Homo sapiens: one gene and its partner. The protein of the gene in region 2 interacts with the protein of the main gene of each other region in a pairwise test. Each region holds a gene or a part of one and is shown on either strand. Other genes may lie near its edges.

Region 1 (7,436 bases), on a different chromosome or scaffold from region 2:
CCTGAGCTGGGATTGGGCACCCCTCCCCAGCCCTGAGTGCCTTCTCTGTCCCCACCACCCCACTGGGGCCCTGGGCCAGGGGCTGCTGCCAGTGGGGGAGGGGTGGGGGATGGTACTGGCAGACCAGAGCAGAGGTGGGGAGGGAGGCTGGACCCTCCAAGAGAGCTGGGTCTCAGGGGTGGACAGTGCCTCCAAAGTGCCTCTGAACATGCCCAAGGTGACACATGGGTAAGTCACACACAATGCCACCAACAACCACTGACACACACAGTCACACCCCAGCCACACCCCAGCCACACTAACAGCACAGGTGGCTCACATGCAACCTCACCTGGCCACACACAGGTCTCACCCACCACACATGACCAAACCTGACCATACACAATGACACCCAGCCATACACAATCATACCTGGTCATGTACAACCACACCCAGCCATACACACCACACCCAGCCATACACAACCACACCCAGCCATGCACAACCACACCCAGCCATACACGCCACACCCAGCCATGCACAACTACACCCAGCCATGCACAACCACACCCAGCCAATGACAACCACATCCAGCCATACACAACCACACCCAGCCATATAAAACCACACTCAGCCATACACAACCACACCCAGCCATATACAACCACACTCAGCCATACACAACCACACCCAGTCATGCACAACCACACCGGGCCACACACAGGTTTCACCAACCATGCACAGGCAAACCTGGCCATATACAATCACACTCAGCCACACACAATCACACTTGGTCGTGCACAACCACACCCAGCCATACACAACCACACTCAGCCATGTACAACCACACCCAGCCATGCACAACCACACCCAGCCATACACAACCACACTCAGCCATGTACAACGACATCCAGCCATGCACAACTACACCCAGCCGTACACAACCACACCCAGCCATGCACAACCACACCCAGCCATGCACAGCCACAATGGGCCACACACAATCACATACACAATCAACCTGGTCAGGCCACACACAACCATACCTGGCCTGGGCCACACACAAGTCACACTTGCTCCACAACCGAAGGCAAAGCTATGAGCTGGGCTGCACCAGTGTCCCTCCACATGCAAACACACCCACTGCTGCTCACACCCACAACACCTTCGCCTTCCTGCCAGCAGCAAAGAGCCTACGTTGGCCCCACATTGCTCACACCCAACCAGGTTTCTAGTCACAGACACACCCACAGGTAGTGAGCACACAACCATGTTCACACCAACACCACCAATGCCACCAACCCCGAGATCTGTAGCCCTCCCAGCCACTGTTACAACAGCCACACACACGCAGCTCCTGGTGCTCCCATACACACCCACCTGAATCCTTTCACACCCAGACACCCCTCCCACTCCCACTGTCACCTCCAGTGGGACCCAGGCTTGCACTGCACCAGGACTCATAACCCCAGCTGCTACTGTGTGAACATCTGTCTCCTCGGAGAGGGGTCCTGATGGGCTCCGGTAGATAAATCAGACCCAGACCTGCCGGATGGGGGTCTCCAGGCTCAGGGAATCCCATCAAACCCTCCCTTGCAGATGCCCCAGGCTAAGACCTTAGGGAAAAGGTTACATCCATCTCCCAGTGGGGAAACTGAGGCTTGAAGCTATCTGAGGGCCATTCCCTGCCTTGTTCCAGGATAATGAAATCATGGACAGAAGGACCTGTTTTCTGCATGGGTGGGGCTGCCTCCCCAGACACCACCAAGGCAGAGAGTCCCCACTGACCCAAACTTGCTGTGTGACTGCCAGCAAGTCCCTGACTCTCTCTAAACCTCCAATTTCTCCCCAGAAAAATGCTAACCCAAGCCCAGTTAGGGGAACTCCAGAGTGAGACTGGGGTTTGCATCCCAGTTCCCCTTGGTGATCTTGGCCAAATGACTTTGCTTTTCTGTGCCTCAGTTTCCCCAAGTGAACCAGAGGAGCTGCTTTTGGACCTTCTAGAGCCCTCCCTGCCCCATTCCCTGGGGTGGGGGTGGGAGCTCTTAGTCTTTCCTCACTCAAGCGAATGAATGGACCACTTTTGGCTGCCCTGCTGGGAGCCCAGAGCTGCTAATTCCCTGGAGAAACAGGAGGCTCTTTCATGCCCAGGCGCCAGTGGGGTGAGGAGGCGGGAAGAGGGTATGGAGCTGGCCTCATACCCGTGGGCAAGGAGGCCGCATGCCAAAGCCAGGAGTGGTGTGGAGAGCCCTGGAGCCATGCATATCCTCACTGGGGGGACTTGGCTAAGTTGATGTGTCCTCAGCTATAAAATGGGAATGACAGGGACCAGCCACAGCAGGTTTAACGAGCCAATGGGTGGCGACAGAACATGGCTTCAAGTCAGACACACGGTGGACTCTCAGTGAAAGTCAGCTACTGTTACTATGTGTCAACCTGAAGAACCCAGAGAGTCCTCCAACAGTGCCGTTAATAGAATTCCCCCCATTTCACAGATGAGAAACTGAGGCTCAGAGAGGTCAAGGTGCTTTTCTAAGGTCACACAGCCAATGAGTGGTCCAGCCAGGATTTGAACCAGATCTGGGCTCTCCAGTGTCCTTGCTCTTTCTAACTTCCTTCCGGGGGTGAGGTTGGGGGCACAGTTTCCTGTCACCTCCAGCCCCAGCCCTGAGACCAGCGAAGTTGGGTTTGGATGGCACCAGACTCTGTCTAAATGCGGAAAGCCCTGGCAGGCAGGGGCTGAAGAGACAGGCCTTCTGCTGGTGACCCAGTTTCCCCGCCAGCCCCCACCCCTGCTGCCTGGGGTGGGTTTGAGCAGACACTAGTAGGATGCCGGAAGGACCATTCCTCCAGCCCTTGAAGAAAGGGGCTGGCTGCCAGACCATTCAGCTAAAGCCAGGAACAACAGCCTCTTGCCAGTGGCTGCTCTGTCTTGGAACCCTCCATTCATGCAGAACGGATGGTGTCCTGCCCTTTCTCCAACACCTTCCATGACTGCTCCGGGCCCAGCAGGATGTGGCTCCACATATTTTATTCAAATTCATGGTCTTTCACCCAACTAGGCCTTGGCTTATGCTAAGCTCCCTGCCTGGGACACCCTCCCCACTCCAGATTTTCTCACCCTTGTGAATTCCTGGCGCCTGACCCCCTATTAAGGTGCAGTTCTAACATCCCCTTTCCCAGGAAGCCCTTCCTCCAGGTAGAGCCCCTGCTCCTCCGGCCCCATCTCTCCCTTGGGGCTAGGAGTGTCTATGTCTACCTCTGTCTTGCCCAGATCAGGGGCTCCTCTGGGACAGGCCTGGAGCTGAGGCCTCTTGCTGTCCCCAGCATCATCCAGCAGAAGGCTGGACATGACAGTGTGACAGTAGAGCTTGCAGGAGGTGTCTAGTGAATCAGTGAACCAAATCTTCAGCTTGGTATCTGAGGCTTTGTTTGGCAAACTCCTGTTCATGCTTCAAAACCCACCTCACAGCCTGGGTGCGGTGGCTCACACCTGTAATCCCAGCACTTTGGGAGGCCAAGGCGGGCAGATCACGAGGTTAGGAGTTCGAGACCAGCCTGGCCAAGATAGCGAAACCCCATCTCTACTAAAAATACAAAAATTAGCCAGGCATAGTGGTGCGCACCTGTAGTCACAGCTACTCAGGAGGCTGAGGCAGGGGAATCACTTGAACCTGGGAGGCGGAGGTTGCAGTGAGCTGAGATCACACCACTGCACTCCAGCCTGGGCAACAAAGTGAGGCTCCGTCTCGAAACAAAACAAAACAGAAACAACAAAAAACACCCGACCTCGCATGCTCCCTCCTCCAAGAAGCCTTCCTTGACGTCCCAGCAGCATTTTCTGGGAAAGACAAACTTGGAGGCCAGGGCTCCTCTGTCCCAACAAGAACAAAAAGGGTTGATGAGGACTTCAGATACTCCCAACATCGTGGCCTTTTCCACAACTCTGCCTTTGGCCTCCGGGAGGCAGTGAAGTTCGGGGATTCCCAGGCTGCATTTAGTGGTTAGGGTAGAGTAGGTTAGAGTAGGTTAGGGTAGCCGTTAGGGTAGAGTAGGTTAGAGTAGGAAGAAAGACATTGTCATAGGAAGTCTCTCTGGCCGGGCGCGGTGGCTTACGCCTGTAATCCCAGCACTTTGGGAGGCTGAGGTGGGCGGATCACTTGAGCCCAGGAGTTCGAGACCAATCTGGGCAACATGGCGAAACCTCATCTCTACCAAAAAACAAACAAACAAACAAACAAACAAAATAGCCTGCCGTGGTGGCGCGCGCCTACTAGTTCCAACTATTCGGGAAGCTGGGTAGGAGGATTGCTGGAGCCTGGGAGGCAGAGGTCGCAGAGAGCCGCGATCCCACCATTGTACTCCAGCCTGGGTGACAGTGAGACCCCACTTCAAAAAAAAAAAAAAAAAAAGGCCGGGCGCGGTGGCTCAAGCCTGTAATCCCAGCACTTTGGAAGCCCCGGCGGCTGGATCACGAGGTCAGGAGATCAAGACCATTCTGGCTAACACGGTGAAACCCCGTCTCTACTAAATATACGAAAAATTAGCCGGGCGTGGTGGCGGGCGCCTGTATTCCCAGCTACTTGGGAGGCTGAGGCAGGAGAACGGCGTGAACCCAGGGGGCGGAGCTTGCAGTGAGCGGAGATCGTGCCACTGCACTCCAGCCTGGGCGACAGTGAGACTCCGCCTCAAAAAAAAAAAAAAAAAAAGGAAGTCTTTCGGATTCCAAAATCAGTCAAAATCAGTGCTCTACACCTTCGGGCGCCGAGGGACAGCGCCCCGTGCGCGCAGCCAGCCTTTTCCCTACAGCTTCAAGGGAACCAAGGTAAATTCAATCATCGAACCCGGGCCCTTTAAGAAGCGAGCATGAAGGGGCGGGGTCGAACCAAACCCCACCTCTGGAGCGTCCGCGGTCGGCGCCTGAATTACAACACGCATGCGCCAAGCCCACGCGGTTCCGGGTCCCAAGATTTGGCTCCAAGAGCTATTCGCAGAGAAACAGCCTCGCACAAAAAGCCACCGCCCCCGAAACCCGCGGGAAATCTGTTTCCTGTGAAAGGCCTGGCCTCCGGGCATTGGCGGTTTCCCTGATCCTCTCTCCCAAATTTTCCGGCAGGGGATTGATCGAGGCGACATTTAGGACTGGGGTGGGCGAGGGAGTGGCGGTTCTCGTCCCAAGTTACAGGTGAGGACGTTCAGGCCAAGGCGTAGCCAAGATCGCGCCGCCCTGTAGCTTGAGGAGGCGCCGGGATTCGAACCAAGGCTGTGCCCAATCCTAAGCCCTGCGAGGTCTTGTGGAACCGACATGACCCACTCTTTGGTTTGTCCAGAGACAGTGAGCAGGTAAGAGTCTGTGGGGACAGGCAGTGGCGAGGCCCTAAGCCTGGGGTCGAGCCCTCAGTGGACAGATCTGGGGGTCAGGCCCTCCGCGGAGCTGAGAGCTGGTCTCAGCCCCTCTCTTCGCCTTGATCCTGGTGCCTCCAGGGTGAGTTCAGTGCTGAATCGCAACACTCGGCAGTTTGGAAAAAAACATCTTTTCGACCAGGATGAGGAGACATGTTGGAACTCAGACCAGGTGAGGCGCCTCCCTCGACCCTCCATCTCTAGGGTGATTCAGATTCAGATCTCATGCCTTGAGAACGTCAGGGGGCCCTCATGGGTGGCCAGGAAAGGAACATGTGCCGAATTTCCTTCTTCCCCTCCATTCCAAGAACTATGTGAATGAGACAGGCATAGCAGGGCTCTGTGCCTGCAGTGAGCTTGCGCCTCAGTTTCCCTGTCTGCTTCCAGGGCCCCTCCCAGTGGGTGACGCTGGAGTTTCCCCAGCTCATCCGTGTCTCCCAGCTGCAGATCCAGTTTCAGGGTGGCTTCTCCAGTCGCCGGGGCTGCCTGGAAGGTACTAGAAGGCCCTGGGTGGCAGGGGTTCCAGGGGTCACCCCAGACACTCATTGCCTTTCTCTGCTGAAGGTTCACAGGGCACTCAGGCTCTCCACAAGATTGTAGATTTCTACCCTGAGGACAACAACTCGCTTCAGATATCCTGCCCCTGCTTCTGGGGTGGGTGGTCTGTGCCTCTGGAAGCTTTGGACTCACCCAAACCCGAATGGGAACCCTGATGTGTGATCTTGAACACGTGACCTCTAGGACTCCACTTTTTCTGTAAAATGGTGCTGATGACCACCTGTTCTGTGTGAGAGGCTTAGAGGGACCTGCAGCTTCCCCAGGTTGCCCACATCGGTGGAGTGTGAGCTGGGTCTGGAAGGGGTGGGGGCCTGCGGGTGGGAAACCAGAAATCACCAGTTTCCCTTGACTGCCCACGCTCACACTTTCCCCATACCAGCTGCTGAAGTGGACCGGCTGAAGGTGACGTTTGAGGATGCCACTGACTTTTTTGGCCGTGTGGTCATCTACCACCTGCGGGTGCTTGGGGAGAAGGTGTGAGACCTCTAGGGGCTGTCTCCTCCAGGAAGCCCTCCGGGAAGCACAGCAAAGTCCCTCATTCTGCACAGAAGGTTTATTGGTTCCTCTTGGGAAGGGTCCCCTCCCACCACCTGTCCAGAAGCTGCCTTTGAAGTCAGTTCTGGGTTTCCCCAGCTCTGGCTGACCATTTTGTTCCCTGAGTGTCTGAGTCCCCGGCAGGCGGCCTTCACTCAGGGTCAGCGGGCACCAGGTTGCTCTGGAAGAGCTTGAGGATGTGGTTCTCGATCACCTGTTGCACTGAGATGGGGCAGGGAAAAGGTGGGCTGTGAGCTTGAATCGGGAGTGGGGTGGAGGCACAGGCCAACCTGCGCTCTCCCCTTAGGGGACAAACAGGGACCCTTGCAGAGACCTGCATTACAGAGCAAAGCTGGGAGAACCGAGGACTCACCCCAGGAACCTCAACTTCCCCTAAGTTTGTAAAAATGCACTTTTGTAGCTTTTCAGAATTAATATAAAAATATTTCCTACCAAGCAAAATGTGTGAATTGTGACTTTCATGAAAAGATGAGCCTGGGCATGGTGGCTCACACCTATAATCCCAGCACTTTGGGAGGTCCAGTGGGGAGGACTGCTTGAGCTCAGGAATTTGAGGCCAGCTTGGGCAACAGAGCAAAACGCTGTCTCTACCAAAAAAATTTAAAAATTAGGCTGGGCTTGGTGGCTCACACCTGTAATCCTAGCACTTTGGGAGGCCAAGGTAGGTGGATCACTTGAAGTCAGGAAAGGCCAGCCTGACCAACATGATGAAACCCCATCTCTACTAAAACTACAAAAATTAGCCAGGTGCAGCCGGGTGTGGTGGCTCATGCCTGTAATCCCAGCACTTTGGGAAGCTGAGGCGGGTGGATCACCTGAGGTCGGGAGTTTGAGATCACCTGACCAACATGGAGAAACCCTGACTCTACTAAAAATGCAAAAAATTAGTTGGGCATGGTGGTGCATGCCTGTAATCCCAGCTACTTGGGAGGCTGAGGCAG
Region 2 (7,366 bases):
ACCCGTGCACAGACACCTGTGCAGACACAACCCTACACCCGTGCAGACACATCCCAACATCCATGCACAGACGCACCCCAACACCTGTGCACAGACACACCCTCACGCCCGTGTACACCCCCAACCCCACATAACCGGCCCTCTCATAACCCTACACCATGCATCACACCCAAACCCCATGACCAACACCCACCACAGGCAGCAGTGTGGTGGGTCAGGCCCCACTGGGCCACGGTGCGGCTTCTCCTGCCCTTTTCACCTCTGCCCCCTACCTGGGCTGCCACTCCCTGGGAAGGACCAGCAGCCAGGTTAATATGTATTTTTCTGACTTTGGGAGGCCAGGCAGGTGAATCACAAGGTCAGGAGTTCAAGACTAGCCTGGCCAAAATGGTGAAACCCTGTCTCTACTAAAAATACAAAACATTAGCTGGGCGTAGTGGCAGGTGCCGGTAACCCCAGCTACTCAGGAGGCTGAGGCAGGAAAATCGCTTGAACTTGGGAGGCAGAGGTTGTGGTGACCCAAGAATGCACCACTACACTCCAGCCCGGTGACAGAGTGAGACTCTGTCAAAAAAAAATAATAATAATATGTATTTTTCTGTGAGCCTGGACAGGTTCTCTGGGGCGAGTGAAGGGAGGGCGCAGATTTGGGCCATGGTCCTGGTCCTGGGTCTAGGCTCTGTGTGGTGGAGGGCACCAGCCTCCCCTGGCACCGTCCTGGCTGCATCCCCCATCCAGCCTGGGCACGTCCCGCCACACGCCCCGCGTGGGTCTGGAGTCTGGGGACGGTGTGGCCACAGGTGTGGAATGACAGGCTGTGACAGTTGTGTCACCAGATCCTCTGGGCAGGGAGCTGTAAGGCAGGCAGGGTCAGGAGCTGGGCAGCCCAGGACCCCAGGGAGGCGGGGCTGTGGCTCGGCCGGAATGTCCTTCCCCGTGACTCGGCTTTCTTCCCCTGACCCGGCCAGTCCTGGCCCCAGTCCTGTCCATGGGGCGGCAACTGGTGCTGGGTGGTACGGCCAAGACTGGGTCAGGACGGGGTGGCCCTGCTGGGATCTGGAAAATGGTGTGCGGGGTTCCCAAGGACGCAGGATGTGGGCTGTGTGGCTCCCCCGACCCTGGAAGGTTCCCTGGGACCTGAGATCTGGCCCTGATAGGTCCGGGGGCCTGTTCTGCCACCCTCCCTGGGGCAGCGGCTGTGGTGACCCTTGGAGAAAAGCCTCTCCGCATTTCCTAAGTCATTTCAGGACACAGAGGTAGGGACTCTCGGGGCAGCCCATGGGGAGGAAGCAGATCCCAGCCTCCCCTTCCTGCCCGCCCCCCTCCCACAAAGGTTGCTCTTGGAAAAGGTGGGACTGCGCACCCCAGGGAGCTTAAGCCTGCCAGGGAGCAGGGTGGGAAGGACCTGGGGGCCAGGCCCCTAGGAGGACATTCCAGGGCCTGGAGGGCCCTGTAGCTGGAACTGGGAACAAAAGGAAGTTGGGGCAGCCAGGGGCAGGTGGAGGCACCTGGGTCTGGGGGAGAAGTCAAGACTGGGGGCTGTGGGGTCAGAGGGGGGCGTCCTGTGAAGCTGCTCACTGGCCAGGGATGGTGCCACCTGTCCACACCCCCACCTCCTTTCCTGCAGAAAAGGGCGGCCTGGGCCTGGGGTCTGACCCAGGGCCACTGTGGGGGAGCAAGCGTTGGAGCCAGGTGTGGGGTGGGTGCTCCCAACACCACCCAGAGTGGGGTGCAGAGATGCGGACACACGTGGCCTTTCCCACCCCTTCCCGCAGCTCCAGACCCCCAGCGGGCCAGGGGATCGCACCATGGCCAGAAGTGCCTCTCCCCTGCACCATCGCTGTCTCTGACACATCCAGGGTTGTTGAGGGAGGGGCATGACCCCCAGAAGGCATCTTACCCGAAACCAAAGTGGTATTCCGTGCCCAGGTGCCCCTGGAGCCCTGTGTCAGATGGAGCCTGGCCACCTGGGCCCTGGTGCCAGGCCTGGAATGCCCCCCGCCACCAACTGCTGGGCCTTTCTAAAAGCTGAGCACTTGGAGGTCAGGGGTACCTCATGCTACCGGAGTGCCAGAATCCTCGGAGAGGGGCCCAGGGTCTCGGAGGCTCTGGCCCCACCCCACAGCGTCCTGTTCTGTCCAGGCTCCGGGTGAGCTGTCCCAAGTGGCCTGCTTGATAGCTGCGCTGCCTGTTTCCTCTGGGTAACAACCTGGCAGGCCCCCAGCCCCAGCCCCCAGCAGCCATCACATCACTGTGACCACTCTGTGGTCTTCCAGTCCCCCCAGTCAAAGCCCACAGACTTGACCTCTCTGCTGGGAGCCAGTGCTGACTGGCCTGCCTGCTCCCCTCCCCTCTGAGGGCAGGGAGGCTCCACCCCAGCTCTGGGTGGACAGTCCTGGGGCCCACACCCAGGGGAAGCCATGCCTAAGAGGGGGCCAGGCCTGGGGGTCAGAACCAAACCACAGGTGCTCCCTGGGACCCCTGGAGGGATGACTGGGCGTCTTCCCAGCTGGGAGAAAACCTGGCCCTGGCAGGGGCGCCCCTTTGTCCTTCAGGAGGCAGGAGGGGGCAGTGAGGTCCCAGGCTCTCTGGCTCTGTCTCCCTCCCCCTGTTGCTGCTCTACGGTGGGGGTTCAGGGTTCAGGGATCAGGGCCAAGCTGTAGGCAGATGTGGAAGGTGTCTCGGTGGCTTCAGTGGGGGCCCCAAGCCCAGCTGGCAGGCCTGGTGACTCAACAATCTGGGATGGGGAGCACGGTACCCTCGCCTCCCCGGCAGGCAATACCCCATAGGGGACCCATTCCCGCAGCTGTCCACGGTGCCTCGCACCCCTCTGCTGCTCTCCCTCCTCAGAAACTGATGAATCGCCTGGTGCAGGAAGATGGGAGCACCACCTGCCCTGGGCGGGAGCACCACCTGCCCTGGGCGGGAGCACCACCTGCCCTGGGCGGGAGCACCACCTGCCCTGGGCGGGAGCACCACCTGCCCTGGGCGGGAGCAGCACGGGCCAACTAAGTAGAGTCTTCATCTGTGAAGTTGGAGGCCCCCTCACCACTTGCCACAGGCCTGTGTTCTGCTCACAGGCACGTGCCCTCATCTTGATGTTTGGGGATGGGGGTGGTTGGGCCCCAGGTAGGGGTGAGGGCCAGACCCAGCCTCTGTGAATGCCAGCGGGAGGGTGGGCTTGTAACATTACATAGAAAGAACAGGCGGCCTTACTGGACCTGATGTCCCGCAAGGCTGGGCTGCAGATGGAGAGCCAAGGCCCACACGGCCTCACTGTCAGGGGTGGCCTCCCCTTGCCCTCTGGAGGGGTCCTCCATTGATACCCCCTGCCTCCTTTGTGTGTGAAGGCACGGGCTTACCAGTGCCTCGGTCCCCGAAGCCCCCGGGTCCGGGAGGGGCCAGTTAAAGCATTCCTGTGGCCCTGGCAGGGTGGCCCTGACAACTAGACTCCTTGGTCCAGGCCAACAAAGGCCTTACTCCCTGGAGCCACCTCAAACCTCAGCACCCAAAGCGGCCCGTTATTTCCATGTTGCAAATGAGAGAAAACAGGCTGGGAGAAGCACCTCACGAGGTCCAGCGGGTGGGCAGCCCTCGCCTCCCCGAAGGTGGGAGCCGCCCCGGCCTCCGCGTCGGGTTCTGGGCCGCGAGAGGGGCGGGGCAGGGGCGCAGGGCTGGAGTCGGTGGCTTTGTAGGGCCCCGCAGGGCGCGGAGCCACCTGGGGAAACGGAAGTTCAGGGAGGGCGAGGCCGTGCCCCACATCCAGGCAGCGCAGGCCGCGGGCCGCTCCCCTAGCCAGGAAGAGCCGCCGTCCGCACCGGGACCGGAGAGGAAGCGGAGGTCTGAAGGGGGACAGGTCGGACGTGGCCTCAGAGAGGGAGGATGTGGGCCCCGGAGCTGAGCCAGGCGGCCGGAACCCCACGGGACCCGCGCGCACCTCCCCACCAAAGGGGCCCCGGCGTTGGGGGGCGAGGGGTCGCTGCCCTGGAGGACGTTGGGACCTGCCGCGCTGCGCTCCGAGGCGGGGAAACGGAGGGACGGCGGGGCGGAGGGGCGAAGCGAGCCTGGACTCCGGGGGAGGCGAGGCCGGGAAGACCCAGTCCCGAGGAGCAGAGGGGGCGGGCCAGCTCCGGGCCGGGGGCGCCGACGGGGCCGGTTCCGGTTGGGGGGGTCCCTGGGCCCGGCGGGGTTGCGGGACGCGCCGTCGGGGAGCTGCGGCCCGGGAGCCCGTCCGGAGGCGGCGCGGGGTCCGGGCGGGGCGCGCAGGGGCGGCGCCAGGCGGTGACGTGCGCGGGGGACGTGCCGCGCCAGCGACCCGAGCACTTAAAGTCGCCCCCGGCGCGGAGCGGACCGGCAGAGGCGGGCAGAGGCGGCGAGAGGCGGCGAGAGGCGGGCTGAGGCGGCCCAGCGGCGGCAGGTAGGCGCGGCCGCGATGCTCGCGCGCGGGCCGGGGCCCAGGAGCTCCCCCGTGCCGGGCAAGGGGGCGACCTCGGGGTCCGCGCTCTCACCCCCACCCCGCCCACTTTGTCCATCAGGTCCGGGGGCGCCCGGGGCATGGACTAGCCTTCTCGACCCCGAGCGGGCCCCACCGAGGGCTCCCGAGAGCCAGCCGCGCCCCTCCGCGCCCTCGCATACCTGGCTGCCCAGTCTCGTCTCCCCCGGTCCGGCCCGGCGCCCACCCGTCGGGCTGCCCTCAGGGGCTGGGCTCGGGCCAGGAGATGGCTGCGCCGGCGGCCAAGCCCGGTCCGGGTATAAATAGCTCGGTCCGCGGTGGCGGGGGGCGCGGGCTATATTTGGTGGGGCTGCTGCAGCCCTCCCTGTATGGGTGGCCTCCCCGAGGGAGTGGGGAGCACTTGCGCTCGGGCCGTGGCGCTTTCCCCTGTTCGCAACACCCTGAACACTCCCCGACCCACACCCGCCCTTGGGCAATGACTAACAGCCCGAGACCGTGCAGGGAAGTGGGGGACCCTCTCCAGAGCCAGGCTGGGCTCCCTGGGTTCGCCCTACCTCCACCCCTGGCCCCCAGCTCGTGGGAAAACCAGGCGCAGCCTTTGGTAGCCTCCCACTTCCTAACCCACGCCTCAGTTTCCCTATACGAAAAGTGGGTTGGTCAGGAGCCTCCCTGGGTGTTGGGCCAGTCAAGAGACAGGAGCCGCAGAGTGGAAGGGAAGCCCTTAGCTCTGGCCGGGGCCTCCAGGGGTGGCTGGAGTCGGTGAGGGACGATGGGGGGAGCCGAGGGGCGGCTGTCCTCCTCTCTGTCCCAGAGGCATGGGCTGAAAGGGTCCCTCTCCTGGTGATGGCCAGAGTCAGGCCTGCTGGGCGGGAAATGGCAGTTGGCCCACCCCAAGGCCCAGGGGCTTGTCCATGCTGAGCACAAGGGTGGGAGGTCTTGTGTCTGTTGGGGCCGGGGAGTCCAAGGTCCCAGCTTCACTGCACAGGCCTGGAAGTCAGGTGGGTGCTGGCCTGACCCTGCTGAAGGAGGGTCTATTCCGCCAGCGTGGTGTGGAGGCGGCTGGGCTCGACTCCCTCATGGAGGGAAGGAACTGAGGAGGTGCTAGGAGGCCGTGGGGGGGTGTCTGCCCCCAGAGAGGCTTTGAGTGCATGGGGGCTCTGCCGTGGCACGTGCAGCGTCTGTCCCCCAGGGCCCCATGGTGTGGACAGAGTCTGGGGTGGGCACCTGGAGGCCTGGTCTCAAGGCAGGCTTGGTAACGACCCCATGTGACCTTGGGCAGGGCCCGCCATCCAGGCCACCCAGAAAGCCATGTGGCCTGCACGATCAGGCCAGACCCCACTGACTGGAGCGGGGCACTTTACTTTGGAGGGGCAGCTACCAGAGGGCTCTATGGATCCCAGCCCAGCCGTCAGGCCGGACGGGTCCCCCCTACTGGCCTGCAGTGACCCTTATGCCAGGCTCGGCTGGCTCAGCGGTGGGTCCTGGGGTGACCTGGCCACGTGGGACAGAAGGGCCTGTGCCGCTCCCTCCAGTGAGGTGCCAAATGTGGGCCACACTCTGGGCCCCAGCGGGGGCCTTCCGGGCAGTGGCGCAGAGCCATTGGAGGTGCCCGGGCCCTGGGGCAGGGGCGGGGCGGGAGCAGACAGAGCTCAGGGCGTCCTCCTAGCGTCACCTGCCCGAGTCAGGCCCATCTGTGAAATGGGCCACGCCGGGCAGCCGCACGCAACGGAACCGAACCGCCGGGCTCCTGCTCCGAGACCCGCAGTTCACGAGTCGACGCCCCCGAGTCCCGAGCCGCGCCCACTGGTCCCACCTCTGCAGCAAGTGGAGTCGGCCCCGCCCTGTGGCTTCGAGGCCCCGACGCCTGGCGCGGCTCCCGGGCTCCGCTGACCCCGGTGGACCCGCGCGCCGGCAATTACGGTAGCGTCCAGTAGGGCGCCTACTGCGGGCAATACGGGGGCTCCTCCCATGGCGCGGTCACGTCCCCCACGTCCCGCGGCTGGCGGGGCGGGGCCGGGCGGAGCATCCTTCCCTCCCCCTCCCCCGGGTGGGCCCCGCCCAGCCTCGACCACCCGCGCCGACCCCCGCCCGCAGAGCCGGGAAGCCGGAACCCGCAGGCGCCCTCCAGCCGTCCCTCCGGCCCGGGCGGGGATTGCGCCGAGGAGGGGCCTCTCCTGGCGAGGGTGGAGTTTTGGGTTCCCCCCTTCGCCCCGCACCTCCCGCCTTCCTGCCTCCTCCCGGTCTTCACCTTCCCCCCCGGGTCCCCACGACGCCCGCTGGGCGGCGGTGGGGTAGGGGGCGCCTCCTGACCCGACTCCCCTTCCAGCCTTGGCCTTCAGGCACTGGCTTTAGGGTGGAGGGGCGGCCTTGCGGGGTCCAGGAGGCCTCGGAGGTGGGGGACGGCGGCTCTGGACCAGCTCCGGCCCCCACCACCTCCCGGCCCCAGGGCGGTGACAGCCTTGCGGAGAAGGGGTCTTCAAAGCTCTGAGACCCCGCAGTGCCAGCTCAGGATTGAAGCCTGCGGCGGCACATGCAGCCTTCCTTTCCCAAAGGGGACTTGCGCCCAGCCCCACTTGGGGCACCAGTGGGGGCTCCTGGCCCTGGCCCTGGGTGGGAGTGGCCAATCCGCAAATGAGGCCTGTGTGTCTGCCCCGCCGGCCCCTGCCGTCGTGATGTAAGCGGACACAGAGCGGCAGGGCACGGGCTGCGCGAGGGGTCTGCGGGGGTCAGAGGTGGGGCGCAGGGCCCAGGCCTGGGGCAGCCCCTTGCGCAGCGTCCACCCCCTGCAAGCTCGGCCCCGACACCTTTGCAGGCGCCTGGGGCGGGGCTGCCGGGAGTTGCTCACTGCTCCTTCCTTGTTTGCACAACAGGGGCTGCGGGGGAAGAAGGGAACTGAGGGAGGCCCCTCCCCCG

What was found. Proteins that work in one complex are often made in the same cells at the same time.
Region 1: the proteins of SLC16A3 (region 2) and NR2C2AP interact in binary tests that used the Homo sapiens proteins (3 or more experiments, as listed by UniProt).

What each region holds. Positions count from the first base shown.
Region 1 is NC_000019.10:19,200,909-19,208,344, reverse strand, and holds NR2C2AP (nuclear receptor 2C2-associated protein), read left to right. Parts: upstream 1-4,930; 5' UTR 4,931-5,284; coding exon 5,285-5,322; intron 5,323-5,463; coding exon 5,464-5,554; intron 5,555-5,769; coding exon 5,770-5,875; intron 5,876-5,946; coding exon 5,947-6,014; intron 6,015-6,303; coding exon 6,304-6,420; 3' UTR 6,421-6,625; coding exon of another isoform or gene 6,626-6,696; 3' UTR 6,697-6,781; coding exon of another isoform or gene 6,782-6,871; 3' UTR 6,872-6,936; downstream 6,937-7,436. Other genes in the region: DNA-binding protein RFXANK, read right to left, coding at 6,626-6,696. UniProt on the Homo sapiens protein: May act as a repressor of NR2C2-mediated transactivation by suppressing the binding between NR2C2/TR4 and the TR4-response element in target genes.
Region 2 is NC_000017.11:82,224,690-82,232,055, forward strand, and holds the start of SLC16A3 (monocarboxylate transporter 4), read left to right. Parts: upstream 1-4,352; 5' UTR 4,353-4,417; exon of another isoform or gene 4,418-7,366. UniProt on the Homo sapiens protein: Proton-dependent transporter of monocarboxylates such as L-lactate and pyruvate. Plays a predominant role in L-lactate efflux from highly glycolytic cells.